Linked DNA regions of Homo sapiens. The protein of the gene in region 1 purifies or fractionates together with the protein of each later gene. This does not show direct contact. Each region holds a gene or a part of one and is shown on either strand. Other genes may lie near its edges.

What was found.
Region 2: the proteins of TINAG (region 1) and FBXO21 purify together in Homo sapiens (affinity purification with mass spectrometry; one large-scale study listed by BioGRID and IntAct). This does not show direct contact.
Region 3: the proteins of TINAG (region 1) and COP1 purify together in Homo sapiens (affinity purification with mass spectrometry; 2 studies listed by BioGRID and IntAct, with this or other methods). This does not show direct contact.
Region 4: the proteins of TINAG (region 1) and COL4A1 purify together in Homo sapiens (affinity purification with mass spectrometry; 2 studies listed by BioGRID and IntAct, with this or other methods). This does not show direct contact.
Region 5: the proteins of TINAG (region 1) and NUDT6 purify together in Homo sapiens (affinity purification with mass spectrometry; 2 studies listed by BioGRID and IntAct, with this or other methods). This does not show direct contact.
Region 6: the proteins of TINAG (region 1) and MOCS1 purify together in Homo sapiens (affinity purification with mass spectrometry; 2 studies listed by BioGRID and IntAct, with this or other methods). This does not show direct contact.

The regions. Positions count from the first base shown.
Region 1 is NC_000006.12:54,349,074-54,354,239, forward strand, and holds part of TINAG (tubulointerstitial nephritis antigen), read left to right. Parts: intron 1-642; coding exon 643-823; intron 824-2,278; coding exon 2,279-2,324; intron 2,325-5,166. UniProt on the Homo sapiens protein: Mediates adhesion of proximal tubule epithelial cells via integrins alpha3-beta1 and alphaV-beta3. This is a non catalytic peptidase C1 family protein.
Region 2 is NC_000012.12:117,155,358-117,160,523, reverse strand, and holds part of FBXO21 (F-box only protein 21), read left to right. Parts: intron 1-2,439; coding exon of another isoform or gene 2,440-2,460; coding exon 2,461-2,651; intron 2,652-4,575; coding exon 4,576-4,733; intron 4,734-5,166. UniProt on the Homo sapiens protein: Substrate-recognition component of the SCF (SKP1-CUL1-F-box protein)-type E3 ubiquitin ligase complex.
Region 3 is NC_000001.11:175,986,496-175,991,661, reverse strand, and holds part of COP1 (E3 ubiquitin-protein ligase COP1), read left to right. Parts: intron 1-2,182; coding exon 2,183-2,300; intron 2,301-3,249; coding exon 3,250-3,374; intron 3,375-4,558; coding exon 4,559-4,719; intron 4,720-5,166. UniProt on the Homo sapiens protein: E3 ubiquitin-protein ligase that mediates ubiquitination and subsequent proteasomal degradation of target proteins.
Region 4 is NC_000013.11:110,153,205-110,158,370, reverse strand, and holds part of COL4A1 (collagen alpha-1(IV) chain isoform 1 preproprotein), read left to right. Parts: intron 1-2,973; coding exon 2,974-3,088; intron 3,089-5,166. UniProt on the Homo sapiens protein: Type IV collagen is the major structural component of glomerular basement membranes (GBM), forming a 'chicken-wire' meshwork together with laminins, proteoglycans and entactin/nidogen.
Region 5 is NC_000004.12:122,916,074-122,921,239, reverse strand, and holds part of NUDT6 (nucleoside diphosphate-linked moiety X motif 6), read left to right. Parts: intron 1-3,535; coding exon 3,536-3,739; intron 3,740-5,166. UniProt on the Homo sapiens protein: May contribute to the regulation of cell proliferation.
Region 6 is NC_000006.12:39,912,939-39,918,104, reverse strand, and holds part of MOCS1 (molybdenum cofactor biosynthesis protein 1), read left to right. Parts: intron 1-1,872; coding exon 1,873-2,037; intron 2,038-4,269; coding exon 4,270-4,331; intron 4,332-4,676; coding exon 4,677-4,788; intron 4,789-5,100; coding exon 5,101-5,166. UniProt on the Homo sapiens protein: Isoform MOCS1A and isoform MOCS1B probably form a complex that catalyzes the conversion of 5'-GTP to cyclic pyranopterin monophosphate (cPMP).

The DNA.
Region 1 (5,166 bases):
GAAATCAAAATCATTTTCTCTTTTAGATAATACACATGTCTGATAGTTTTCTACTTTATTAACATTTAATATTATATTAATATTATACTATTTCCCTCAAAGTATCACGAACTACAGATATATGATTGTTTGTATTATGTGAACATATCTATAACTTAATAAAAATATACAAACACAAAAACAAAACAAAATAAAAACTTTAAAGTTACAACTTACATAATTTTAATATCCCATCTGGAAATAGTCAGATTCATTGTCTGGTTTATATTAAATTTTAAATTTAGCTCTTCCAAATTATAATTATATAAACAGGTTGAAGGGGTCCTTCCCCTATTAATATTACCACAGACTTAATATTGACAGCCATTTTTTATCTTCAGGAAATTCTATACTACAGATAGAATTATTTATAAAAATTGATCAAAGCAAGATTTTTAAAATTATAATGAAAAAATAAGAGGAGGGTAGGGAAGAGTGTAATGTCATTGAGCTTCTGTGTTGGAGTCACTCACTATTTTGAAAATTATGCATGTAAGTAACCAGAATAATTTATGAATGTTTAATTCAGTAAGATTAAATATAAAAAGGATATTACGACATTCTCCTAAATATTACCTTTGCTTCTTTGCTTATTCCTCATAGACTGGTATCCCACGCATGCTACCCACTTTTCAAAGACCAAAATGCTACCAACAATGGATGTGCCATGGCAAGCAGGTCTGATGGGCGAGGAAAACGGCATGCCACGAAGCCATGTCCCAACAACGTAGAAAAATCTAACAGGATCTATCAATGTTCTCCTCCATACAGAGTCTCTTCCAACGTAAGTATAAATGGCAAGAATCAAGAATAGTTGGCTTTCTCAAATGTATATAGCTCTACTGTAACTAAAACAATTTAAAAACTAATTAAAACTATTATATTCTAAAATAAATATTATATTTTCATGTATAATTTTTAATATTTTTAAGGACTTTCAGTTTGGGTATGATGTCTTATCTTTGTAACATTAGCAGTGTAAAGGACTGACTTAAATTTTAAAATGTCCAAGGAAATAGGGTTTTAAAATTATGTTTCATAATATGTGTATATACATATATTTGAACTTGACAATTAAAAGTTAAGTTAAACACTTTTTCACTGACTTTTTTGTGGTATTAGCTCATTTTATCAATCCTTTGCCTCACTCAACAAAATAATTTAAGAGGACCTGGGTCTAATAGAAAAAAGAGTCCCTTGGATTCTAGTTTGTCTGTTAAAAGCCTAGGCGAATTTACTTCTTCATATCAGTGTTCCCCAAGCCTTCTCGTTTTCAGAATTTGTGAACCTCCAGTGTCTTCTAATTATCTCCAGAATACAATTCGGTGTTCTAACCATAGCACATTGGCCTTTCATGAGTTGGTTTTGACGTACTACTTTTATACACTCATGTCCTGCCAGCATCTGCCACTCTACCCAGCCATAATGCTCCTAATACATAGAACTAGTCTCTTTTCCCCAGGTACACCATGCTCTGTTATACTTTTCCACTTAGCTAGGTGATAATTCCTCTGATGCAAATGGTTATCAAGCCTTTCCATCTAGAATGCCAAGCAAATGTCAAGGCCCAGGTAAAAACTTCATCTTCTCTGTGACGTTTTCCTTGATTTCCAGGCAGAATTAATTTTCCTTTTTTGTTTGCAAACGTAACACTTTGCGCTTGTCTCTACAATGGATCTTATTAAATAATAATGAAATTAGTAGTGTCATTCAACCAAAATGTAAATACCTTGAGTATAGGTGCAGGGTCAATATTTGTTCCTGTCATAGTTTCTGGCATGTACTTTGTGCTCAATATGTACAGAAAAATGGATGAATGAGTGCCCTGCCTCCCTACAGAGGGCTTCATTAAACATTAGGAGACATCATAGAAATATTTGTACTAAAGCTACTGAGACATCTAACTAAACAATCATTTGGGATATCTCTTGTGAGAAAAAAATTAGAGGTACTAGTAATCTCCACTAATTAAATATTGCTTTAACTTACATTGTTTCTTTATAACCATAAAAGGCTATTGTATTTTGTCTCCACTCCAAATTTACTATTTAGTGATAAATGTCATTAAAACAAATGGGTGCATCTTGTCTTTAACAATTTCATTAATGTAGCATAATATACGTGAGTTTTTCAAAGTACAATTGAGAGTAAATTGCAAACACTTAACATTGTACACCAATCAATGGGTTTAGTATGCTCTGATAACAATGATATTGCTTATTCATATTTTTCCATCCAGGAAACTGAGATAATGAAAGAAATCATGCAAAATGGACCAGTTCAAGGTAAGCTTGAATGAAATACGGTTTTTTCTTACTCATTCCTTTAATAAACAACATTACATTGAGCTCATGTAATAGGAGTTTAATAAAATAAAGAAAATTTTTACTTTAAGAGTATCCAAAAGGCTTCAACAGTTCTAAAATGAGTGCAGTTATGAGAAATATGCTTACCTATATCTTAATTAGCTGCCATTTTATTTTCAGAAGATAGACTCATTTATAAATTGAACTCTTAAAAATTAATGACACATTTGATGAATAACTCCGAAATCTTTCCAAAGTGATCATGGACCAACAGAAAGTCCAACATGAAATGCCAACTGACTAATTTGTAATGAAGCTTACTTTATTTATTCAGTCATATTTAAGAATCATACATACAGTTTTCTTATCTTCAGTTTAAATAGATTAGGTCGTGGATTGAAAAAATTGAGGATTAATATTTTCCTTCTATTAGCTCAAAATAAAGCGAGTAAACTAGTGTAATTTTACATTTTACAAAAGGTTTTCAATTTTGATCAATTTTGTAAATGTTTTATTTAGAGTAACAGTAAATAATGAAATCATACAGTTACTTGTATATTGCCTTTGATTTATATCATCTCTTATGATAATTTATTCTGCTTACCTGTTGAATTTTATTTTGCATCAATGACCTGAATAAGGGTATACTCACAGAATGTATTCCCTGTATAAACATTGGCTTGAAGTGCATGGAAGAACAAATCCAATGAGGTCTAAAATGAAAATTTAGGTTGTGAATACTGAAGGGCCCGGAATATATTATCAATGCAGTGGAATAAAAAATAGGCCAAAATTAAATGTAAAACATTTGGTACACACTTAAGGAACTGTTGCCAATTTTAATTTTTCTGAATACTGATCTAATTAGTATCGGTTAAATATATATAGGCAGGAATCATGGATTTTATAATTGTGTTGGATGAATTTTTATTGATCATTATCACCACTTAGCATTTATTGAGAAACCACAGCCTACATAAACATGTCCTGAATTTAATTTTTAAAAATTATGGGAAAATTATGGGACATTACCCAAAACCTGAAACAAATGAAGAGAAATTTTCTGTTCCCCCTTACAGCTGTTGGTTATTTGTTGGTTATTTGAAGAGTGAGGGAATTAATCTCTAATTTCAATGCATGCTCCATTAAGTGGTGCTTGTGTGACAAATTTAAAAGATCACAGGCATTTGGACTCAAGGTTACACTAAAATATCCCAACTTTGGCATTTGCTGTTTAAATAACTTTGGGCAATTTTCTTAACCTTTCAGAATCTTCAAGTTGTTGTATTATTGTTTCAAGTGTTTTTTTTTTCTTTTTCCCTCTCTCTCTCCCTCTTTTTAAATCAATCAAACAATTTTGAATTGTAATTATTTAAAATTGAGAAAATTTAAATACCTTAGATTTATTTTATGGCCATATACTGAAATGCTCATAAATTTCACAGAATGAATAAAAAATAAAGACATAACATTTCAAAGCAATAAAACAAAAATGCAAGTTATTCAACATTCATTTAACAAAGATTTCTTGAGAACCTGCTTCCTGCTAGCCTAAGCCAGGAGCAAGAGACGAGGAACAACCAAACATCTCATCCGTGTTATAATTCTGTATAATGAGTTTGCTGCAGTTTTCCAAAAGTAAAATTGCATGATTGTAACTTATATAGTTATATATTCGTGAATTTATCAAGTCTGTTTGGTATCAGAAACTGCAGAAAGAAGCCATCTTTCAGGTAATTATGGTGGCTTCTCATCCTTTTTCTTAGGTGGCAGTGTTTTTCAGGAATAATGAATACATTTTATTTATGATGCTTACAGGAAAGTTGAATCATAAGACCTCAAAGAGTCAATGGTTCTACAGAAAAGAAAAGCCACTAGCAATATCTTCACATTTTTATAAATGGATAGAATGCTGGTTGACTCTTCTTGCTATAAATGTTACAGGATTGCCTGGCCTGGCATACGGCATTTCCCCTGTCTCAGTACGAAAGAGTGTAAAAGCCAATAGAACCCTGAATGAATAACTTTGTGTACATTCTTCTAAAATCTGTAGGATTGAAAATAAGTATAGGTGATGGATAGAGAACAAAAGCAGAGATCTGCGTAAAGTACAGTTACATAAATTCTTAAAATCCTCTAGGAATGTGTTTTAGAGTAGATAAAGAAGTTTTAACCTCTTTTGCGACTATTTGCACAGCATCAGAAAAGGCATGGAACATTAAAAAATGAAACAAAAACTGGAACATTGAAAAGTTATATTTAACTTTGGAGTATAAGCTTTTTTAAAGGATCTGTCAAACACTAGTTACCTTACTTCCTATTTTATTTAAAATGCTTGTCAAATTAAGACAAGTATTGTACACAGTTATCAAGCTATACATATCTAATCCCAATTAAAAATTTTCAAATTCATATCTTCTATAAGAGAAGTTTAAAGGCTTCACCCTGAATTGCCAAAGCCCTTCAACAAAGCAGCACACAATAGAGAGATGAAGTAATTTAGGTGAAGGAAGGAAGGAGAGCTTTCTAAAATATAAGCCCTGCTTTTTAAAGTGTACAACATTGCTTATCTCTCCAGAGCTGGGAGGATGAAATTCTGTCAAAGTTTTATTTTGCCAGGAGTTTGCTTTTTTATTCCAACTCACAAAAGAAAGGTTTGTATTTACTTATGAGGATTAACAACAATTGCTTTAAGCTCAGTTTGCTAGGCTCTGCTAGCTTAATTGGGGTTTTAAAAGGCTTGTGGTAAAGCACAAGGTTAGTGGAGAAATAGCAATCACTGACCAAGTATAGTATGCTTTTGTTGCAAGCGCTTAATTTT
Region 2 (5,166 bases), on another chromosome or scaffold:
TGTTTTGGTAGTAGGAGAGTGTTTTGTGTGGGGTATGATGCATTCATCCTGACCTGAAGCCATCGAGTGCAGATGCCCAGTAGCCTTTAGCAGGAGCTCCCAGCATCAGCATCTGGTAACTGAAGCCCCAGAAGTAGCGGATCCATAGACAATGGATCTCAAGAAAGCAGAGCCAAGAACTTCAGAGAGAACCTTAGAGGGAACCTGGAATTCAGGGACAGAGCAGGGGCCAGCAAACTATAGCTTGTGGGCCAGATTCACAAAGCCTGTTTTTGTGAATAAGTTGTGTTTGTTTACTTATTATCTATAGCTTTTTTCAAGCTACAGTGGCAGAGTTGAGTAGTTAAATCAGGGACTGTGTAGCCCCCAAAGCCTAGTGTCTCTTCTCTAGCCCTTTACAGAAAAAGTTTACCAACCCCTAGGCTAGAGGGAGAAGAGCAGTATAGGGAAATGCATCATGGGTAATAGACCCCAATCCAGGATCTCCACCCCAGAAGTGGTGATCTTGCGGCATTCTAGCCCTAGAGTATTTGGTGGGGACGGCATGGTGCCTGGGTCAACACTGTCTGCAAATACGCCAGGCCCCGAGGCACAATGTCTTCATTTCTGCCCTCTCCCTTCGCGCTCAGCCACACATCCAGCGAAGGTGGGGGTAATTATCCTTGACCTTATCTAGACTTCCTCTGTTCTCTGACGATGCCAAGTTCTGACCATTTTACTTATCTGATGGGGAGGTGGCTGCTAGGAGAGAAGGGGAGCTGTGTGTGTGGAACACAGTGGAGGGGCAGAAAAAGCGGCTTGTTGGTACTCTTTCAGGCCACAAGGACAGCCATTATGCAGGCACTGTCAGTAGGCGCTTCCTATTAAAGTAAAGGGTAAATCTGCGAGTGTCCCACAATTAAAAGCACCCGGCTGGAGGTAGAGGCACAGGGGGATTGGCTGTCTGTTGATTCTTGTCAAAACTGGGTTTGGGGTACTTGGGATTATACTGCTTTGTCCATTTTTATGTGTTTGGAACTTTTTGTAGTAGTTAATTTAAAATGCTCCTGCTCTTGCTAGGATATGACACTGGTTGAGACCAAGAGTTGATCTTCACACCCAGAGCCACAGCCTCACTCCACCTCTCCACAACCCTGTGACCCCGGGAAAGTCACTTCACTAAGCCTGAGTCCTGTTCGGGAAGTGGCAGTGATTAAAAGCTTTTTTTTTTTTTCCACCTAATCCTCCCAATTTGAAGATCAAGAAATTACTGACCTTCAAATGGGAAGGATTAAGTGAAACAAAAAACCTGATGGACTTGGCACAGTGACCAGCAGAGAATAGTGTTCAGTAAATGTTGAGGTCCAGCACGTCGCAGTCTGAAAGGCAAGATAATAACATGGTGCATAAAACTGGAGTTTTCACAATACTTTGACAGGCTCACAATGCATCAGCAAATAGGACAGTGATTACTCATGATTTGATAAGCTAAGAAAGGAATTCAGAGGTAAAAACGCCAGCTAGTCTGACCGATCTGGGCCTAGAGTCCAGGTTGCTGTAACGCACTAAGCAGGCTGTAATCCAGGACTCAGTAAATTGGAAGGAGAACCTTGTCAGAAATTCTATGCTAAGGGCTGTAAACGTAATGGGTGCGAAATAATTGTATGTCTGTGTCTTTTTAAACGTGGAGTTTTTTCCACAGAGGCACTGTGTGCAGTAGAGGCGGTAATAGTGGAGTCAGACAGGGCTGCTACTCTGTGCTACTAGTTTAACCTCTGCATAGATGTAGTTTCTCCTGCTGCCTGCTGAATACCAAATACCATGATGAGTTAAGACCACTGAAGTGACCAGCAGGATTTTAGAACTCTGATATACGTGGCTCCCTCCTTCTAGTGTAGCTTCATAAACTCAACGAATGCATCCCTTTGGTGCCCACTCTGTGACCTTTTCCATCTTTTCCAGCACTGAGGCAGTTGTGTCAGACATCCTCTTCGTCTCGATTAAAGCAATTTAGCATTTTTTTTTCCCCTCTGAATTCGTGAGTGGCAAGTGAAAATCATTCCTGTGTATTGAAAAAACGTGGATTCTCACATTTCCCATGCCGACCAAGCATGCTAGGTGCTGTTAGAGCCCACCTCATCCAGAGTGCCCTAGGTGGTGGGCCCTCACCTGCGTCCCCAGCGCTTATCCCAGCACACTGGTTTCCAAAGAACTCCTCAGGTTGACACTGGTTGAATTGGGGTATCCTGGGCCAGCTGCCAGTGTTACAGTAGAGCCCAACCCTGGGCATCTGCAGTGCCGATTTGGTGGCGGTCCATCAGAGGATGGTCCAGAGACCTGGACCGGTTCGATCAGGGCATAGCCACCCCTTTTGGTCCTTTGCTTTGTTAGGTTACGTAGGTAGGTCTAAATCCCTCGCCGCAAAAAAGAAAAGGCCTAGCTGAAAATATTATCTTTTAGTCTTTCTGTCTTGTTTTGAAGGTGCTTGACATCCTCCAGCACATCCAAACCCTAGACCCGGGGCAGCACGGGGCGGTGGGCTACCTGGTGCAGCACACTCTAGAGCACATTGAGCGCAAAAAGGAGGAGGTGGGCGTAGAGGTGAAGCTGCGCTCCGATGAGAAGCACAGAGATGTCTGCTACTCCATCGGGCTCATTATGAAGCATAAGAGGTGAGTGCCCGGGATCATCTGTCCTGCAGTGTCCGTTCCAGAGGGGCTGCAGAGACACACATGCACCTGGTGAGCCCCCAGGACACAGTGGAGGAGGAGCTGACTGGATCACTTATCCCCCGAGTGCGCACCGCGGGGAAGACAGAAAGCTGAACCTCTTTTTTTTTCTTTTTGAACCGTGTCTTTGACCTTTGTGTTTTTTAAGCAGCAGCTTACTTTCCTGAGAGATCTTCTAGTGTTTTTAGTGGCCTTTAGATGTTTGACCCTTCTCTGTGTGTGAGAACATGGAAGTAACTTTGTAAGACACGAGTTTTTTCTCTCATTTCCTCATTGTTCTTATATCTTGTCACTTAATCTCAGTCTCTTCAAATCCGATAGGCACTTGGTCTATTTACCAGGCAAAATTAAACTGTATCCAAAGTGATTGGAGCAGTTTACATCCCACCAGCAGGCTGGGAGCCTGGAGTTCCTATTCTCGCCTGGTGCTATTGCCAGACCTTTAAAAGTGTACTTACCTGAGAAAGGGCAAATAGTGTTTCACTGTGGTTTTAATTTCTGTTTCCTGGGTTACTAAACACGTTAAGGTTCTTTTCATATATTTACTGGCTATCCAAGTTCCAAATTTCCTTTTATTAAGCGCCTATTCAAACATTTCATTTTTCTTTTCTTTTTTTCTTTTTTTTTTTTTCTTTGGAGACAGTCTGGGTCTGTTGCCCAGGCTGGAGTGCAGTGTTGTATCTCAGCTCACCTGCAACCTCTGCCTCCCAGTTCAAGCGACTCTCATGCCTCAGCCTCCCAGGTAGCTGGGACTACAGGCGCACACCACCACGCCTGGCTAATTTTTTGTGTTTTAGTAAAGACAGGGTTTCACCATGTTGGCCAGGCACGTCACTAACTCCTGACCTCAAGTGATCTGCCGTCTCAGGCTCCCAAAGTACTAGGATTACAGGCGTGAGCCACCACACCCAGCCCATTTCGTGTATTTTTTTCTATTGAGTTATTAGTCCTCCCTAATATGATATGTAGTTGTTCTTCTGTGTATCAGTATCTACATGACGATAAGTTGCAAATATCTTTTCCCAGTTTTTGGCTGGTGGTTTTCATTCTTTATTGCATTTTTTTAAACTTTTAAATGGAAATTTGCAAAGATTTATAAGAGAGAAAGGACTATAAGGAACCAGGTGGTGTTCCTGTCATCCAGCCTCAACAGCTGCCATACGGGGTGAATCTTACTGTCCCCTGCACCCTCCAGACCTTCCTCCCTGGGTTAATTGACGCAAGTGCCAGATGCCATTTCACCTGTAGCGATTTCAGTATGTACCTCTAAAAGGCAGGGGTGCTCTCTCCTTCTCTGTCTTTTCATATTTAACATCTTATTATCACATCTAGAAAACCCCAGTTCCTTAACTTCATGCAGTATCTAATGAGAGTTCCTATTTCCCCAGTTGTCTCATATTTTTACATGTTTGGATCAGGATTTGTTAGTCTCTTGGTTTTAGTGATGTCAGATTGGTTAGTCTTTTCCTTTACGGCTGTATTTTTAGTGCCTTGTTTTAACAAACCTTCCCTATCTTGAGTCATGAAGATACTTTCTATTTTAGAAGTTCTGCATTTAACACCTGAGTCTTTGCTGTACTGAGAATTGAATTTGGTGTGCTGTTGTCAGGCCAGGTCCCCATACCTTTTTCTTTTGGGTAACCAGTTGTCATCTAATCACTTTTTGTTGAAAAGTTTATTCTTTTCCAGATAAAGTGCTATGTTGATAATAAGAGGTGTTTATAAAAGGGGTTAGGGGTGTCCTGAAAAATGATTCACCGTGGAGTAAAGCAGGTAACTGAGGATGTGAGCTGAGAAGCCACGCGGTTGTCTGGAGGTTGTTGCGGCCGGGTCTGCAGGGACTGACTGCTCCTCCTGTGTTAACTAGGTATGGCTATAACTGTGTGATCTACGGCTGGGACCCCACCTGCATGATGGGACACGAGTGGATCCGGAACATGAACGTCCACAGCCTGCCGCACGGCCACCACCAGCCTTTCTATAACGTGCTGGTGGAGGACGGCTCCTGTCGATACGCAGCCCAAGGTAAGCGGCGGGTTCCGCTTGTGCCAGTGGCCCCGCGGGCGTGTTTTCAGCGCACGTTTGAGCCCTCGGGTAGGTACTGTGGGCGTGGGCCATCGGTTCCTTCAGAGGCGGCCGACGCCCCATGGCCGGCCTCCTTCGGGCCCACAGTCAGCTAAACGTGGCTGGGTCTGCACAGGTGCCGCCCTGGCGAGGGGTCAGTAGTCATACCCGCCCTCCCCCAGGGCCTCCGCTCCCACAGCCCGGACATCTGATTGGCCACTGTCTATGCCAATCAAATTCCTGTAAGTCCTGCCTCCTGGACCCTGCCCTCGGCTCCTCCCAGACTAGAAGGGAACCGGATGAACACCTGGGGGCCCCCTAGTGCTCCCTGGCCTCCCAAGGCTGTGGCTGCCGGCTGACGCCGGAGATGCCCTCGTGTGGCCACCTGTGGGAA
Region 3 (5,166 bases), on another chromosome or scaffold:
GTACAATGTATGTGTTTTAAGCTAAGTGTTATTACAAGAGTCAAAAAGCTTTAAAAATTTTTTAAGTTTATAAAGTCAGAAAATCACTGTAAGGTAAGGTTGATTTATTTCTGAAGGGAGAACACTTTTTTACAGTAAATTTAGTGTAGCCTAGGTATACTGTTAACGTCTTAGGCCTTCATGTTCATTTACCACTCACTAACTCACCCAAAACAATTTTCAGTCCTGCAAACTCCATTCATCATAAGTCCCCTGTATGGGTGTGTACCATTTTTTACCTTTTATATCTTATTTTTACTGTAGCTTTTCTATATTTAGATACGTAAATATTTACCATTGTTACAGTTTCCTACAGCATTCAGTACAGTAACATGATACATAGGTTTGTAGCATAGGAGCACAATAGGCTATTCCACATAACCTAAGTGTGTAGTAGTCTATACCATCTAGGTTTGTGAAAGTACACTGTATGCTCACACAGTGATGAAATTGCTGAATGATACATTTCTCAGAATGTATCTCCATTGTTAAGTATGTATTATTGTACTTACTGTTCAGCATCTCAAATCCAAAATCTGAAATGCTCCAATGAAGAAGCATTTGGAGCTTTGATTGAAATGTTGGCACTCCAAAAGCAAGGATTTGGGATTTTTTGATTTCAGATGTGCAACCTATTAATAATTATATTAAATGTAAGTATGTTGAATGTTGTAACATTCAGGGATTGGCAGAATGGGTTTACAAAAAAAAAAAAATTAGAATCCAGCTTTATGCTGTCTACAAGAGATAGACTTTAGATTCACAGACACAAATAGGTTAAAGTAACAGGATGGAAAAAGATATACCATGTAAGTAGTAGTCAAGAAAAATGGTAGAATGGCTATATTTAGGTCGAACAGAATATACTTAGAGTAGAAATCAGTACTAGAAACAAAGACATTTTATAATGGTAAAAGAATCAATAGTGAAAAGATACATCAATTATCAACACACCTCAAAACAAACTTTTTGTAGATATATGAAAAGAAAATCTGTGATATTTAAGGGAAAAACAGATATTTTGACTGAAGTTGTTGAAAAATACTCCACTTTTGATATTTCATAGAAAAACTGGACAGAAAATTGGCAGAGTTTTAGAAGACTTGAATAACATTGTCAATCTGACATAACAGACATCCAAAGACCACTTCAGCCAACAGTAGAAGCATGCACATTCTTCTCAAGCAAGTGTTAGTAACAGTCTCCAGGGGACACCATATTTAAGACTAAAAATAAGTCAATAAATTTAAAATGCTTGAAGACATACAAAACAGTTTTCTGTCAATAAATTTAAAATGATTGAAGACATACAAAACAGTTTTCTGACCAAAATGGAATTAAATTAAAAATCAACAATAGTTACTTTGAGACATCTGCAAGTATTTGGAAATTACATGACACATTACTAAATAACCATTAGTCAAAGAAGAAATAACAAAGGAAATGTAAAAGGATTTTAAACTGAATGAAAATGGAAACACATCATATCACAATTTGTGGTATCAGCCAAAGCAGTGTTGATAGAGAATTGTGTATCCTTAAGTGTCTGTCTTTAAAAAGAATAACAAAGCTAACTGAAGACAAGCAGAAGGAAGGAAATAATAAAGGTTAGAGTAGAAATTAGTGATAGAGACAGACAGGAATAGAGACTGCCTGTGATGGTGGATGCCAAATGAGTGATCTTATCGGAGTGCAGAAATACTCTAAAACTGATTTATGGTAATAGTTGAACTGCTGGTTAAATTTAGTAAAGATCGTTGAATTGCATACAATATTTTTAGTGTGTGTATTTTATTATATGCAAAATATATCTAAATAATGGTTTTTTAAAACAAATATGGGAAATAAGATTATATAGCATTATGTTTATCCAGATGTCCCATAATGTTTATATTAACATTTTTTTCATGACATCATTAAAACAAAGATTGATTTTTAAGTTTCCAGTTATTTTGACCCCTTAATACTCTCTTTCTAGAGCCAATCTTATATTTGAAAAGGATTCCTTTTCCTTTGTTTTCTGGCTGTTAGAGATTAGACATCATATGTGAAACTTTTAATGAAAAAACCAAAAACCAGTTAAAATTAACTTTGCTTTCCATTTCTGCATTTACTACATTTATCTAATTTTGTTTTGTTTTAGATCACTGTGTCCACTACTATGATCTTCGTAACACTAAACAGCCAATCATGGTATTCAAAGGACACCGTAAAGCAGTCTCTTATGCAAAGTTTGTGAGTGGTGAGGAAATTGTCTCTGCGTGAGTATTACTCTCCTCAGAGGTTGAGCTTAATACAGAGCTCTGTACTTACCTACCAGCTTGTAATGTCACTGAGGGTGTATGTAAACTATAATATTGGAGTATATGTACTTTTTCTTAAATAGTAGATTTTTTTTTTAATCTTGTCCAATTAAAGTAGTGTGGTTTCTGGTCTGTATTGTGCACTTTTATATGTGAATTGTGGGTAAAATCCTGAAGATACTAGTTTTTTATATACCCTCCCCCCTTATCTCATCCTCCTATGTTTAATTGCATTTGAACTTCAGATTAGATTTTAGCTATTGCTTCTAAAGAAGAGATAAACAACATAGTTGATGCAATAGAATGAGAAGTATTTTATTTATTAAAGTCAACTCATGTGTTACTGTGTATTTTATCTACTTGCAGTATAGTAGTAGAATTATTTTTGGTTTTAAATATTACTTGGTTGGCTTTTACACTGACATGGTCATTTATCTGTGATTTCATGGTGACTTTAAATATGTTGAAAAGAAAACTTTTTTTTTTTGGCACAGAGTCTCGCTCTGTCACCCAGGCTGGAGTGCAGTGGTGTGATCTCCGCTCACTGCAGCATCTGCCCCCCAGGTTCAAGTGATTCTCCTGCCTCAGCCTCCCAAGTAGCTGGGACTACAGGCACGTGCTACCACGCCCGACTAATTTTTGTATTTTTAGTAGAGACGGTGTTTTGCTATGTTGGCCAGGCTGGTCTCGAACTCCAGACCTCAGGTGGTCCACCTGCCTCGGCCTACCAAATTGCTTGGAATACAAGCGTGAGCCACCACGCCTGGCCGACAGATGAACGTGCTAACTCAGTCTGGCTCCAGAGCCTGCATTCTTAACCAGCAAACTGCATTGCCTCTAATTAGTAGTGATGAGTTTCGTGCCAAGAAATTTTAAGTAAGTTCTTACTCTTTGTACTTTTCCTCAGCTCAACAGACAGTCAGCTAAAACTGTGGAATGTAGGGAAACCATACTGCCTACGTTCCTTCAAGGGTCATATCAATGAAAAAAACTTTGTAGGCCTGGCTTCCAATGGAGATTATATAGCTTGTGGTAAGTGAAACCATCGTTTCCAGGAACTTTTTAACAGGTGTTTGTTATTGAAATTGAACTCAGTGGAAATAGAATAAATACTAAGTCAAGAAATGGTCTGTGCACTCAGAAGATAGTATAATAGACATGATGCCCCAGCACTACTGATTTTCCTTGTGTTGTACTAGAAGAGCATTAGTCCTTCCCTTTTTTATTGTGTAGAAACCCTGAACACCTCAAATACCTGAACACCTGATTTTTAACTGTTTTATAGTTGTTCTCCATTATAACATAATTCTTTAGATATTGTGTAGAAGACAGAAAAGGTTAAGTTCTGTTAGTAATATTTCCAATTTTGGAGACATTATGTGTCTTCTTAAGCTTGATATTCATTTTCCCCTATCTGCTGTTCTCTTCATGAAGTAATCTGTTTGCATAGCATTGATCTGTTATTCTATGGCTTTTATTGTTGATAATTTATACAAATTTAAATAAGAAATAGAAAAATCAAATTTGATATTATTCAAATGCTCTGATACATCTAATGCCTGAATAGATGAGCTTTGATCATACTTTTAAATGACTTGGCCTTTGTTCAGCAAAGTTGACTTTCTCCACATATGTATGAGACTGCCAAAGCAAATATCTGGAACAATTATTCTATCTTTAATAGATGGCTCAAAAATAAAAATACAGTTCATAGACCATTAATAGAATAATTCCTATACTGAGAAATGGAAATAAATTATGTAGGCTATGAAAATCTGCCTGTGTAAGTGTTGCCACTTTCTTTTACCTCTCTAAATGGAAATCTTCCTAAATGTAATTTAAGATTCTTATAATATATTTCTGGTTCTACTATAGACTTATTAGGCTGGTGCAAAAGTAATTAAAAGTAATGACAAAACCCACAATTACTTTTGTACCAACCTCTATAAATGATTTTATAGGGTAATTTTAGCCTTAGAATTATCAGTATTGTTGTATCATTTAACACTGATTGTTTCTTTAGATTAGTAAAGTATAGCTTTTGTCCAAGAATCCTTTTCTTACATGATTTCTAATTAGTCCTGTGATCTAGCCTTTCAAATTTGCCCATAAAAGATCTTTGAACTATAACTTTGGCTGATAATTACTATTAGACTGTGATGTCCTAATTCCGAGTTTTTCTATTCTAAAATACTATTATTATTATTTGTTTTCAGGAAGTGAAAATAACTCTCTCTACCTGTACTATAAAGGACTTTCTAAGACTTTGCTAACTTTTAAGTTTGATACAGTCAAAAGTGTTCTCGACAAAGACCGAAAAGAAGATGATACAAATGAATTTGTTAGTGCTGTGTGCTGGAGGGCACTACCAGATGGGGTAAGTTTTCATATCAGTTTTTTCACCTTGGGATCTCATATTATGCATTATGTATACACAGGGTTTGATTAAATTTTAAAATATAAATTGGTATGTGGTATGTACTTTTTAAAAAACTTTGTAATGTGTCACCAAAGACAATAGGCATTTTAGGTAGTGATTGAAATGCATAGTAATAGAGCAATGTCATGGTGTCATAATGTCCCTCTGTGACCCATAGCATTTAGTGCATATCTCAGTTATAACCATTATCATATTGTCTGTTCATATCTCTTCTATAAGACTGGAAATTCCTCCAAAATATGCATTCTGTCTCATTTTCTTTATTGATTATGTGCAGTATAAGCTTGATAAACATTAAGCTGAGCTGGTATTTTAATAGGGAGGGAGAAAAAGAATTGGTACAGGTAAAGGATAGTGGCCTATATGGTCCTCTAATTAAGTACT
Region 4 (5,166 bases), on another chromosome or scaffold:
CAATTTAGTGAGAGAGCTATGCCACGTGGGACCATGGACCAGAGGGCTGGAAGGTGCCTCCTATGTAGGAAAATCTTAGATCTTTGATCCCCTTACATTAAAATATCTACTGACAGTTTTCTTTGATTTTTTTTGAGCTATAAGAAAACTTATTTTATAGGTCTTAAAATGGAGAATATCATTCATTACACTTCCAGAATGGCACTTTTCAGAATGCAGGCAATACTTCACCTGTGTGAGTGGCTGCCAGATATTGACTGTTTTGAGACTTTTCTTGCTCAGAACCATGCCTGATAACTAGAAGGAAAAGTAACAACTTTTGTGGGTTTCTTTTTTTAGCTTCTTTTACACAACAGGTAGAAAAAGACTATTCATTGATAGGTTTCCTGTTTACTTTCTTGGCAATGTTGACATTTGACCTTGATTCAGAGCTCCTTGACAGGAGCTCTGGCATGCCCTGGTGGTAGTCCAAAAACAGGTCTCAGAGAAGCTGTGTGTCTGAGACCAGCATTTCTGTGTGATGCATTCCTCTCAGTAAAACACCCCTGGTCTTTGAGCACCAAGAGTCTAAGTCTCTGTATGTTTTGATCCTGAGATGAGCTTCTAAAGCCAACGGGGAGGTGCTAAACCTTAGAGTCTAAGCAATGGGGCACAGCATTTCCCACTTAACATGTCATTGGACCAGAAAGTCCTGAAATGTCCCAGGACTTTACATTTCCAGATTTTTATGTCTTCCTGTTAGTTGACACATCGAAGCTCAGCATGAAGGGACCTTCCCAGGCATGTACTTGAAGCTGCTGCTTTTGCATCAAGTCTGCCTCTACTTCCCTCTCGTAGAGAGGCTGCCCCTTTGTCCCTGTCTCTGAGCAAGCAGGTTTCCACGGTTACTGAACTTAGTGGTTTCCACGACTTCTCAGGACTTACAGGTTCCTTCTCAGCTCTTCCCTTTAGGGAGGTCCGAAAGCTAAATTTTAGAAACAGCAAATGACACAAAAGCCTTCGTTTTGAGCAGAAAAGGTGGCAGTTTTCCAGCTTTCATCCGATAGTAGGGCACAATTTTCTAAGTACTTTCTAGCTTTCTGCAGACAAGACTCACGAAATAAATACTGATTGCTAATTGCTCTGACGAAAAGACCGCTGGATTGAGAGCAAGGAGAACTGCATTTTCGTTCTGTCTTGGACACAACTAACCCTGGCCTTAGTTTCTTCATATGCAATATGGAGAATTTGGCCATGTGAATTTTAAGGAATCACACAGCTCTTTAAGCCTGCAATGGGGCAGGACCCTTGAATCCCTCAGCCCAGAGACAGTCTGAAAAAGACAAAACCCTTCCCTCCAGGCTGTATTTCTAGGTCTCGTGTCTAGCAAACAGATGGTGGCAGATGTATAAGGCCAATTTCAGTCACTGTTGTTTAACTGAACCTTTTAATTCATCTGCATTTGGGTGAATAAAATAGAAAATTGCACACACCACACATACACACACACACAGACAGACACACACACAAGTCCATGGAAAATCAAATGACTCATTCAGCCCTATTCCCCCTTCTGATCCACGTTCATGCAAATGTCCCAGTATAACTAGGTGTAATTATTGACACCATTTATAGTCATTTATCAGCATTGTTAACACTCTGTTCATTTTGTGACTTGAATGTAATTATTCACTGTTGACGTTTAATTTTTTTTTAAACAAAGCATTATCCCACCATCAAGGGTTCCCTTCATTGAGAGGGTCTTAGTCAGAACACTGTGCTGTTTTAATGTGTTTCTGGTGCAGTCCCAAGGCTGAGCTGAATCAGCCTGGCTTGGGAGGCATCCTGTCCTTGGGAGGGTCCTCTGGAGGTCACTTCAGCGGCAGTGGATGCTGACAGCCTTGGACCTTGGACATCTGAGCCAAGAGGGCAGACCAAAAAGACAAGTTTCCCGCAGGAGGCCCATGTGGACATTCAGCCTTAAGTTCATTAAAGCATGCATTATTTGTCTTAGTTACTCAACTCACTAAGTGCATTTCTTATACTAAAGATTATTAGTAGCTTCAAACTGTTGCATTCCAGAAGGAGTAGCTCTTGGATTTCACCAGCATTTTTTCTGAAGCATTTATTGTGCTTGTGGAAATACGTATGCATTGTTGAAAGATTGGAAAACACTCAAATGCCCAAAGAAGAAAAGTTGCCTGTAACCCCAGCCCCTCCAGGAGAGCCACTGTTAGAGCTTTGCCTTCCTATTTTCCCCTTCTACAAGACAGACAGTTAAATAACTCGTGTTGGATCTATTTTTTAAACAATATTTTAGGGGCAGGTCTCGCTATGTTGCCCAGGCCGTAGAGCAGTGGCCCACAGGCAGGCCGAGCATAGCTCCCTGCAGCCTTGAACTCCTGGCCTCAGGCAGTCCTGCCTCAGCCTCCCCAGTAGCCAGGACTACAGGCCTGTGTCCTGCTCTAATTTTTTTTTTGAGACGGAGTTTCACTCTTGTTGCCCAGGCTGGAGTGCATTGACACAATCTCGGCTCACTGCAACCTCCGCCTCCCAGGTTCAAGTGATTCTCCTGCCTCAGCCTCCCGAGTAGCTGGGATTACAGGCATGTGCCACCACACCCAGCTAATTTTTTGTATTTTTAGTAGAGACAGCGTTTCTCCATGTTGGTCAGGCTGGACTTGAACTCCTGACCTCAGGTGATCCACCCGCCTCGGCCTCCCAAAGTGCTGGGATTATAGACATGAGCCACCGCCCCCAGCCATCCTGCTCTATTTTTGAATTGAATGTTTTAATACTGAGACAGGCTTATAAAACCAACGGGGAGGTACTAAACCTCAGAGTCTAAGCAATGGGCACAATGTTTTCTACTTAATATGTAATTGGACCAGAAAGACTGAGTGAGGATGTTGAGTGTAGGTAACGGGGCAGTGCATGGAGGGCGGCCTCTGCCCTGCACCCCGGCTGTGCTGAGTGTCTCTGCTCCACTTCCAGGTGTGCTGTGTGTGAGGCGCCTGCCATGGTGATGGCCGTGCACAGCCAGACCATTCAGATCCCACCGTGCCCCAGCGGGTGGTCCTCGCTGTGGATCGGCTACTCTTTTGTGATGGTAAGTGTCTGGGGAGACGCCATATTTCCCGGGAAGAGCCCCACTCACGCCCCATAGTCGCCTCTGTCTGGTGCCTCCACACCTTGGAGTTCTCTGCATCTCGCTGCTTAAGCCCCTCCTTCTTCCTCCAACCATCCCCTTCCAAAGCATGCCTCAAAGCCTGGCCTGCCCTGCCTGGTGACAGCAGGGGTCTCCAGCACCAGCCAGAACCCTCCCCTGCTCACAGCCAAGGTAGCTGGGATGAGCATCTTCCTGGAAATGCAGGCCCAGGCCTCTGCTTCCCTGTGGCTGCTCCACTCAGGTGCTCTACGGGTCTGTTCCAGCACCAGCAATATGAACAGCTTCTCTATACAACCAGCTTCTCCATACAACCAGCTTCCCTATATGAGCAGCTTCTTCATATGACCAGCTTCTCCATATGACTAGCTTCTCTGTATGACCAGCTTGTTCATATGACCAGTTTCTCTATATGACCAGCTTCCATCTTTGAGCAGCTTCTCTATATGACCAGCTTCTCCATATGACTAGCTTCTCTGTATGACCAGCTTCTCCATATGACTAGCTTCTCTGTATGACCAGCTTCTCCATATGACTAGCTTCTCTGTATGACCAGCTTCTCTCTATGAGCAGCTTCTGTATATGACCGGTTTCTCTATATGAGCAGCTTCTCCATGTGACCAACTTCTCTATATGACCAGCCTCTTTACATGGAGTGGAGGCCTCTTTCAGGGAAAGGAGGAAGAGAGCCTCCACGTGGGGAGTACACATTCTACTACAACATGCACGAGCTTGAAAGCAGAAGCTTGAGTTAGGGAGAGAACACCCGAGGGCTGGCCGTGGCCTCCACGAAGGCCCTCCTGGGGCAGTGCCGCCTGGGACCCTTCCCAGAGGGCAAGGACTGCTCTCCTAGCCCCAGGGCTTCCCTTTCCCACAAAAGCCAACTGAAACAGAAAACAAGGCCCCTGTTTGATACACTCATTGTAGCTTATTTTATTCTATTACCCCAGTTGGCAGTATTGATTGAATATATACAAGCCGTGAACTTGTAAGATCAGAGTTATCCCGGAATTTGCCAATTCCCAGTAAATGACCCTACACATACATCTGCACCATCATTGGAAGTCCTAGTCCCATCTTCACACTGTCAGGAATGGGCAAGTTGTACATTTGACCCACAGATGAACATTATTTATTATCTGATTGACAGGCTTCATAGCTATTTTCTTCTGTAAATTATTCCAATTGTAGAAAAAATTGGCGGGAAAGCATTTTTTTAATGTTTGAGTGAGGACGCTGAGGGTAGATAACAAGGTAACTCACGGATGGTGTGGCGTCTGCCCTGCGCCCCAGCCGTGTGGAGGGTCTCTGTTCCACCTTCCAGACGTGCTGTGTGCGAGGCGCCCACCATTGCCATTTCCTTCTACTGGTTTTTTCTTGTGCTTTTCTACACATTTTTCCAAGTGTAGAAAAAGTTGGCAGGAAAGCAATTTTTAAAATGTTCGTGCACGTGTACAAGTTTGATTGTATGATTTGCTGGGTTGATTGTACTGCAGCTACACTCTTCATGTTGCAACCACCAGATTAACAGGTTGTTGCAATAATTCGAAGTGCTGCATTGTAACTACTTTATCGAGAGAGCCAGAAAGGTTGAAAATGCTGTATAGAGAAATCAGGACACTAACAATGATGTAAGCTTGCCATGTTCATTAAAAGGTAGATTGGATTCGCCACTCCATAATCATAAGAAATACTGAGTGGAATCTCTGTGTGTCAGAGAAAGCCCACAGTTGCATTGAGGACCCACAGGAAAGCTGTTGTCACCACCAACCCTTGTCCGGGTGTCAAAAGGCCTGAAACAGTGATTGCCCATAATTTGTCTAAATCAGGAGCAAACGAAAATAGTGACGTTCTAGAGAACAGTGTCTTCCAGCACCTCCTCTGAGTTCTCAGGACGGTGGCTCTGATCTGGAGGTCTGGAGACCCCGTCCTTGCCTCTGCTCCGCCTTGAAGCTATGTGATCCTGGTCAGATCCGAGAATGTCCTCAGCTGGGAATCAGTGGAGTTAGCCTTGTCCTCAA
Region 5 (5,166 bases), on another chromosome or scaffold:
TGGGTCAACAGCTGTCTCAGCGAGAACTGGAGTTTTTTAGAATAACGCTTCTTTTATGATTAACCAGGGACGGTGGTGGGTGGTTTCAGTCTTCAATAAGAAAACTTTTTACTGGCTTTCAACCTTGAGCCCAATGATAAGAAAGCTTGGATGGAGGAGCCTTCACTTTGGAAGAAGTCGATTTAGTGGTGCAGCAGTTTTTCAAACGGCCTCTGAGGGTTTTATAATCTAATTGAAGGCATAGCATGCAAATTCAACTATGGAAAAATCTCTCACACTGGAAACTCAAAATAATCTTTATCCTATTGAGCAATATGGCAAGAAGCATATCTGTAAATATAATTGAGCTAGTTATTTCAATGTTTACTCATCCTCATTCCCAGACTTCTTACCTCTTCACATTATTTTCTCTCCTACTTGCTAGTAATTGCTGACAAGCCCGCTTATACTGCAACAGTGTCACTAATAGGAGAATCAATCGTTTTATCTTCCAGTGTGTGGGTAGACACAGGTGTTGTACCCACTGATACTTATCAATGACCAAACAGGTGATCAAAGCACTACCCCAGTCAGCATGACAAAGCAGAAAGCTGTGCGATTTGGAGGTGCACATTCTGGGTTTAAGTACCAGGTTCTGCCATGTGCTTAGCCAGGCATTAGGCAAATTGCCACCAAAAATATTTGCTTCTTAGCTTGCTTTTTGTGAATAACGCCAGCTCTAATTACTGGATAGATGCGTTGATCAAAGATGAAACTAATTTGTAAACTTAAGTACCAAATACTTGTTATATTTTTTCAATAAAACAAATTTTGTTGCACTTAATGGTAGATGTTTTAGGATCTTTATAAATAGTAATTAATCCTCCTAACAACCCTTTGAGGTAGATAGCATTATTATTCCTATTTTAAAGATGACAGTAGTGAGGCACAGAGAGAAAAATTTACTTGCCCTGGCTCTACACCTTTCTTACTGCACTATGCTACCTTGAAGAACTCCTGCTGGTTCTGTTGTTATAATTGAACAAAACTAACTGAATGGTAGTGCCTATAAAGAGAGACTATTTACACATGAAGTCCGCTATTCTTAGTCTTTATGGACTAAGAAGTCCATATTCTTGGTGGAATAAGAAGTCAACTATTCATATTCTTTTAGAACATGAACTATTGATGTTTTGTTACCAACAACTGAAGTTAGAGGGATAAACAGGCAATATGTTGTTAGCTTCACACATAACATATCTGCATCAGTAATGAAATAGCACTGGTTCTGGTCCCTGCTATGCCACTCACCAGCTATGTGACTTTAGGCAAGCCAGTCATTTCATTAGTACAAATTGAGCCCCAGTGCATAATGTAGGGTTACCCTGGAGGATTGCAAATGCATGGAATATTAAATAGAATTGGAAAAAATAGCTAATGGAAGAGATATCATTAGGTCATATGTAATAAGTTCTAATAAATTGTACAGACATAGTAGTCTTTAAATTCATAATGGTGAGCTCATGAGCAGTGGTTAGGAAAGACTGGTCAAAGATGTGGAATATGAGCTGGACTTTAAAGGATAGATATTAGCAATGGGAATGGGAGGTGAGGGAAGAAAAAGCAATAAAGCTTATTAGGGAAAAGAAGAAAGCAATTTAAAAATGATTCTAAGGTTTCAAGCATTGGTGCCAGAAATAAATAAGCTTATAAATGAAGCTAGTTTGGGGTGTAAGATTCAGTTTTGGCCAGGCGCGGTGGGTCACGCCTATAATCCCAGCACTTTGGGAGGCCGAGGCGGGCAGATCACGAGGTCAAGAGATCAAGACCATCCTGGCCAATATGATGAAACCCCGTCTTTACTAAAAATACAAAACTTAGCTGGGCATGGTGGCACGCACCTGTAATTCCAGCTACTTGGGAGGCTGAGACAGGAGAATCGCTTGAACCTAGGAAGCAGAGGTTGCAGTGAGCCGAGATTGCACCATTGCACTCCATCCTGGTGACAGAGCAAGACTCCGTCTCAACAACAACAACAAAAGATTCAGTTTTGAACACACTTTGTGAAGTCTGAAGTGGTAACCTTCAGGACAGGAAATGTCTGGGAGCAACTGGAGAACAGAAAGTTTAGTGTTCAGTGAGGTCAGGGCTGGGCAGCCATCCTCATGTATGTATCAGCTGAAGCAGTGAGAGTGGATTCTCCAAGACACAGAGTGTAGATATAAAACAGCAAGCAAATAGCATTGCTTTTAGAAAGTAGCCTTTTAATTTGATTGGAAGGATTGCCTGGGAAGGAGCACATGTGAAATGTATGGAGTGATAGAAATGTTCTATAATGTTAAAGTGTGTTACGGGCATATGCATATGTCAAATCGCATGAAATGTACACTTAAGATTTGTACATTTCACTTTATGTACTTTACCTCAATTTTTAAAAGATGTCATCAGACAAAGAGAGCAAGGTGAGAAGGACCTGATCCCATAATTCCACTGCATGCTAACTCAAATCAGGAAGTCTTTATTAAAGGCCCCATGTGCCTGTCACTGTGCTAGGCACAGCAACTTTCAAAGAGGTAGAGAACATTGTCCTTAAAGAGAGGAGCTTCCTGCAGAGCTAGGGAAAAGAGAAGGGAAAGTTAATTAACTATTTGATATATAATCAACCCCCAAAGACAGACACACACACACGCTTTATAGCGTTATTATAAAGATTAAGTGAGATGATGGATGAAGAAAGTGATCTGAAAAGCTTTTCTAAAAACTCTAAATCTGAAGTATTTATTTCTTCACCCATAAACTTAAGGTAGTAATACCTTTCATGGTTGTGCACTTAATGAGATAATATATATAAAGTGCTTGGAACTTAGTAAGTTTCAAATAGATATTAGCATCTTTTTCCCCTGGCTCAATCTTAAGTAGTAAAGAGAATTTAAAGAAGGCAAAGATAGAAAACCTATAATTATGTTCACCATGATATTATCTATAATAAGGAAAAATTAGAATTTTATTCCTATATGCTAGTAAAATGTGAAGTTTGATTTCTTCATATTTTTTATTTTCAAAATTTCTACAACCAGCATACATTATTTAAAAACAAAGTTTAACTACCTTGAAATTTATACATTAAAAACATTATAACAGAACTCCTAAAGGAAGAAAAAAATAGAAGTCCATAATTGTCTTTAAGATTAAACCTAAGGATGTTAAAAGGAACAGCATTCAAATGGTATTTGATTCGGTTTAAATCCTTTTATTTGTCCACTCTAAAACTACAGAACATCTGTTACGTGCCAAGCATTGTCTTTGGTGGTATGGATATAAAGGTCAGCAGTGTAATGACTTTATTCTGAAGGAATTCAGTCTGATGGAAAAATCATATAAACAAGGTGGTTACTATAAAACATGGTACTTCCAGTGCCAGCGATGTGAACAAGACATTTGGGGACCTCTTTTGCTTAAAGATGGTTTCCTGGAGGAGGCGAAACCCTGAGGTGAGTTTTAATTTATTCCACTCGTCTCTTTGGAAATTATTTAGACTTTTTTCTTCTGCATTTAGCTGCAGTACAGCAATGGCGATCAGAAGGTAGAACAGCTGTATGGCTGCACATTCCCATCCTCCAAAGCCGATTTATTGCCCCTGCTGCTTCCCTGGGCTTCTGCTTTCACCACGCAGAATCGGATTCATCAACGTTGACTCTGTGGCTGAGAGAAGGGCCCAGCAGATTACCAGGATATGCTTCACATCAAGTAGGAGTTGCAGGTCAGTTTCAAACTCATGATGAGCAGAATTAACTTTTTAGACGTTCACCCAATTTCTTGCTTGTTACAGCTAAGCAAATAGTTTATTCATGTGGAATGAGTTATTTGATTAAATGATTACGGTGGTTCCACCCTATCTGCACAGGATGTGTTCCAAGACCCCCAGTGGGCACCTGTAACCGCAGATAGTACCAAACCCTATGTATATATACCATGTTTTTTCCTATCACACATATTTATGATAAAGTTTAACTTATAAGTTAGGCACAGTAAGAGATTAACAGTAACTAACAATAAATTAGAACAGTTATAAAAGTATAGTGTAATAAAAGTTATGTGAATGTGGTCTCTCTCAAAATATTGTTTTGTATTCACCCTTTTGTATTCACCTGCACGATGAGGTGAAGTGAGGTGAATGACAGGCATTATGACCTAAATGGAAAATTCCAGAAAAAAACTCTTAAGTTTTAAATTGCATGCTGTTCTGAGTAATGTGATGAAATCTCTCACCATCCTGCTCTGTCCCACCAGGCCGTGAATCTTCCCCATATCCAGTGTATCCATGATCCATAGGCTACCTATCCATTAGTTACTTAGTAGCCTTCCCTGTTATCAGATCAGCTGTCCCAGTATCACAGTACTTGGATTCAAATAACCCTTATTTTCCTTATTAATGCCCCGAAGCACAAGAGTAGTGATGTAACACTTCGAGACTATGGTTGACCTTGTATAACTGAAATCACAGAAAGCAAAACTGGACAAGGGGGACTACAGTATCTATTACATAGTGCTTTTAAATAGGACTATTACATAGTGCTTTTAAATAGATGAAGTTTGCCTCAATCAGTAGACAGACGCACAGAGAACAACTTTAGTGTTTAGTTTTCCAAAGGATATGCTTGAATATATTTTACACATATAATTAAACTTCACTACTCAAATAGTAGCACTGAATTGGGATCAGGGAATAAATTTATTGCAGAGTAAAACATGTTGGCACTAATTATGTAAATTTGTAAAGTAAATGATCATTTTTATGTTGAATTTCAGGTAAAGCAAACCAATTTTTCAATGATTTGAACAATTACTTCTTAATAATATTTACATTATTGTGCCAAACAGTTGTTTAAAATCGTGTAATTTAAGTGTAGAGTAGAATTTTGAAGTGGCTGATTAGCTTCAGAGACATAGGAAAGTTGAGAGAAGACTTCCCTCAGAGTAAGACACAGATTCTCACATTGTAGATTGCATCAAAATCACCTGGAATCTTAAAACAGATTGCTGGGCCCTATCCCCAGAGTTTCTGATTCAGTAGGTCTATGGTGGGACCTGAAAATTCAGGTGATCTTCCTGGCTGTTTCTGTTTTTGCTGCTGCTGCTGCTGCTGGTGGTGGTCTCAGTACTACCCTTTAAGGACCAAAATTCTTA
Region 6 (5,166 bases), about 14 Mb from region 1:
AACGTGTTTGTTATAGAAAGAAATTTTACCTATAAATAAATACAAAAATCACCTATGATCCTATTGATCACAGATAACTACTGTGTACATTTTCATAGCTTATCTTTTCTCTAGATCTTCTTGGATTTGAATGTGAGCAGGTGTGTTTCTTCAGACTCATTCTTTTCATTCTTTGATCTTTTGTATCCAGCTCTTCAAGAATGCCTTTGCTGAATTTTCCAGTTTGCTCATTCATTCCTGTGTTCATTCTGCTTCTCAAGTTTTTTCTTCTTGTAACTATATATTGTTTAATTTTCAAGAGCCCTAATTAGGGTTTTTTCTTGGTTTATTTTCAAGATTGAATATTTATCCCAATAAGGATATTCCCTCTGCTTTTTAAAAGAATTATCTTCTGTTATCACTGTTCCTTCTCCTCCTCCTTTCATTCTTCTATTTGGGGAAGTAGTTATCTTTCTTTCATGCTTCTTCCTTAAATGTTTGTTGATTCTTGGCGGTGTACTCATCTTAGTGCCTGAGGTCTCTGTTGGCCTGCCCGGCAATGTTGTTTGTGTTGTGTTTCTGTTTGGGTTGCTCCAAGGTTGTGGAGAAGGGGTGTGAGGTACTGCTGAGTGTCACCAGGACTCAGGCCTTGCCCCCGAAATGGTTTGGCTGTGTCCCCACCCAAATCTCTTCTTGAATTGTAGTTCCCATAATCCCCACGTGTCATGGGAGGGACCCAGTAGGAGGTAATTTAATAATGGGGGTGGTTACCCTCATGCTGTTCTCATGATAGTGAGTTTTGACGAGATCTGATGATTTTTATAAGGGGCTTTTCCTGTTTTGCTCAACATTTCTTGCTGCTGCCATGTGAAGAAGGACGTGTTTGCTTCCTCTTCTGCCATGATTGTAAGTTTCCTGAGGCCTCCCTAACCATGCTGAACTGTGAGTCAATGAAACCTCTTTTCTTTATAAATTACCCAGTCTCAGGTATTTCTTTATTAGCAGCATGAGAAGGAACTAATACAGCCCCATGGCTGGCTTAAGTGTCTGCACTGGTGCTTTATCCTTGAGGCAAATGCTTCTGCTGCCTTCCCGTGCCGACAGGGAAGGATGAGGCCAACCTGTCCAGCTCCTTCAAATATAACTCCCCTCTTAGACAACCTCCCTGACATGTAGTAGGACCCCTCTGCTCCTGTACATGTGACTACTAAGCTGCGTGCACACTAGTCACTCCCTGTTTTTACAGAACCTTCTCCTGGGTGCACTTTGAGCTGTGGTCTCTATCCGTCTGGTCGGTTCCATCTGCTTTCTCTCTTTCAGTACTAATTTACCTTTCTGGGCTATCTACGGCATTCTTTCTTACCTTCCAATGCTATTATGGATTTTTAAAATCCTTCCATTATTTCTAGGGATATTTGGTAGAATGGAGCTGTCAAATAGCACTTAATTCAAACACTTTTGTTTCCATTATACAGAGTATCAAGACCTGTGTAGTACTTGGTTGTTAAGAGCAGAGTCCTGAGTCAAGTACACATGGATTTAAATGCCAGCTCTTCTTACTGTGTGAGATTAAGCAATTTTCATAATCTTTCAGAGCACCTCTTTCCTTACCTACTAAATGAGATAATTGTTATTGTGAGGCTTCAATGAGCTAATGTATGCAAAGCCCTCAGCAGAGCACCTAGCACAGAGCACTCAATGCTTAATCTTTTGGTTGTTTTTGTCAGTTTTGATTCTTAGCTTTCTTTTTAAGTTAGGCCTGGTTAATATAGGTCTGCAGAGAGCCTCTTTTCCATCCATCTTGTCTGGACAAAGAGTTTTGCCTTCCAGCCCTTTTCCCGGCCTCACCAAGAACAAGCAAGCAGTCTGACCCCCTTTCTGTTGTCCTTACAGCCCAGCTCCAGCGGCTGGAAGGGCTGAGAACCATAGGTGTTACCACCAATGGCATCAACCTGGCCCGGCTACTGCCCCAGCTTCAGAAGGCTGGTCTCAGTGCCATCAACATCAGCCTGGACACCCTGGTGCCTGCCAAGTTTGAGTTCATTGTCCGCAGGAAAGGTGAGCGGATGTGGATGGGGTGGGTGTCCCTCCCAGGGCCTGCACATAGCTGGGGAGGGCATGGCCATTGCTGAGCCAGGGGCCTGGTCACTTCCTCTTGGTGTCTGGGCTATCAGTAAGTCAAAGCACTTATTTCTCACCCCTCATCTTTGCCAAATGTATGTCAGGGACTTTGGGGGTCAGACGCTAATGACCTAGGGTGACCAACCTCCCCACCACCCCAGCCCCAGTTTGCCCAGGACTTGAGGGGGTTTTAGAATGAAGGACTTGAAGTTTTAAAACCAAGACAGTCTGTGGCAAACTGGGCCGAGTTGGTCATTCTACGATGAGCTCTGAAGAAACACGGGACAGCCCAGGGTGGAAGTAGCCACCCTGGGATGCCAGGGTCTGGGTGTATGCTGCCAGGAGGGGGTCCCCCAGCAGGCCCCCATGGTTATCCCTGTGCCCACCTGGGTATAAGCCCCTCCTATGCACCTCCTACTACAGGCACAGCCATACCCTCCACTCACCTGCCTCAGGAGGCCCAAGGTAGACAGGTGGAGCCAGCCTCGAGCTCTGGGTCACAGGAGACCAGTGCCTGGCTTCCCTTTGGCATGGACCTCATGTTGGGGCAAAGGCTCTTCAGGTTGGGATACCCTTTGATATTTGGGAGGGGGTACATGACTGAGGACTCTGGAGGATCAGAGGGGTGGCAGGGAGACCCAGATCTCCTTCCTCTTCCTTGGAAACAGCTTCAAGATCAGCCCCACCACCTTCTTTCCTTCCTTTTCTTAAACGGGGTGTGATGCCTTGCTTAATACCCTCCATGTGCTGAGGAAGCACTCATGGTGTCTCTTTCCTCTATGGAGGCCTGCTCCAGGTGCTGTGGAGGGGACAGAAGACACATAAGACATTGCCCTGTCCTTACAGGCTGCTAAGGGCCAAAAGATGTCATTCCATGGGACAGCCTTTGCTTGTCTTGTGGTACTGATTAAAGAGTTACAGAGAGGAAGAAAGAACTCTTAGCAGGAGAGAACTAGGAGGGCTTCAAGGAGGATGCATGCATGCTGGCCTTGAGGAACTGGAGGGTTTCAATCAATGGCACATACTCTGAGGGGGAGCAGGAGTACAGAACCTGCAAGGGCTCTACGGTGGGAAAGTGGGAGGTGGATCTGTGGGCTGTACTGCCCGCAAACACGTTCTCCCTTTTTGTCTCTTATTTCCTGGCACATGGATTGGAGACATCAGATCTTCCCTCCCATTCATACTCTTTTGTCCACCACCTGCCTTTGGAGGGGAGTGTTTTACAGAAAAGAAAACTTATAGTTCTAGGTTATCCTAGCAGCATTATTTTTTTCAAAGCTATACATTTTTCCCTTTACCCTCTCACTGAGCAGTCTGAAAATGCTGCAAGGAAACCATGGAGGCCATCTCTAGGCACCCTGTCTCACAGGTGACCACCCAGGCTGTGCAGGCTGGGGGTGCTGGAGGGGGCCAGGATGCAGTAGGTGATCAAGTGATTGGATGCATGAGAGAACTGGGCAGTGAGAAGTCAGCCTGGGGTCACATTGACTGTGGTTAATGATTGTTGAGACAATAATTGCTTACCAGCCCTGGAACAGCACCTGTGCGTAGTAGGTGCTCAGAGAGTATGTGTTGAGTGAATAATTGATGGACTGTTGAGGAAAAAACACTGAAACGGGAGTGGAAAACCTGCATTCTGAAAGATGGAGCCATGGGGCTTTGAGCAGAGCATTGCCTCACTCTGGGTCTTGGTTTCCTCCCGTAGACTACAAGAGGGTTCAACTAGATCCAGGGTCAGCATGCTATGGCCCACAGGCCACATCTAGCCCCCTGCCTGTTTTCATGTAGCCTTTGAGCCAAGAATGCATTTTACAGATAGCATTCAAAATCAGTTAATGATAGGGAACATTAACTATGAACCCCATTTAAGCAAAATATTGTCCCTGCAAAAAGAATCGCATTATTGTATCCCATTTGTAGATCTGTTTTACAAGACACTGTAGTCAGTTATTACTATTACATTTTGAATTTAGCCAACACTTTGTGACATGTACTTACACGGATCCTCAATTTTGCCTCTTGGCTTGCAAAGCCTACGATATTACTCTGGCCTGTTTTAGAAAACGTTTGCCAATCTCCAGACTAGATGGGCTCTGGTGCTTTTCTGTGGGGGTGTGGGGGAAGAGGAGAGAGGACAGAAGTTCCTGGATCCTTGTTTCTCCCTCCCAGGCTTCCACAAGGTCATGGAGGGCATCCACAAGGCCATCGAGCTGGGCTACAACCCTGTGAAGGTGAGGCCGTGCCCCTGCCGTAGATTCCCGACTTCCCTCCACACTGCCCTGGCCTTCCCCTCACCGCCCCTTGGCCCACTTGAGAGCCCTCAGCTCTGGCCAGCATGGCTGAAGTACGTGCACCCTTCCACCTCTTCTCTCCCTGCTGGTCCAGCCCTGCCGACCCTTGAGAGAAACGAGAAAATCAGTGACCCCAAGGAATCCCGTAACTTAGAGAACTGAGTGGGAGAAGCAAGGAATGGGTCCCTGAGTGGAAGGCCTCAGTGAGTGCCAGGCCCCCAAGGGTCATCTCCACAAAAGAATGCAGGGGGCACAGCCCTCATGGTCCCATTGTTCCCCGGCCAGGTGAACTGTGTGGTGATGCGAGGCCTTAACGAGGATGAACTCCTGGACTTTGCGGCCTTGACTGAGGGCCTCCCCCTGGATGTGCGCTTCATAGAGTATATGCCCTTTGATGGTCAGTGACCAGGGATGGGTTGAGGGAGGGAAGAAGGGGTTGGGCCTGCAGGTCGCATAGTGTGGCTCACCCACTGGGTATGGCTGACCTCAGGGGCAGTGAGTCTAGGATTATGATGGGCTGTTGGTGGCTTCTCGGAGCCCGCTGTGGATGTGATTCAATCCACCAGTTTTAGGCAGAGCCCCCGTCCCTCCCTTCCAAGAGGCTGGAGAACTGATTGCTATGCTGTGGCAGGGGATGGACTCAAAGACCCCGGGGCCCCTTCAACTGTGATTCAGAAGCTCCCCTTGCCTTCCCCCATCCCGAATACAGGCAACAAGTGGAACTTCAAGAAGATGGTCAGCTATAAGGAGATGCTAGACACTGTCCGGCAGCAGT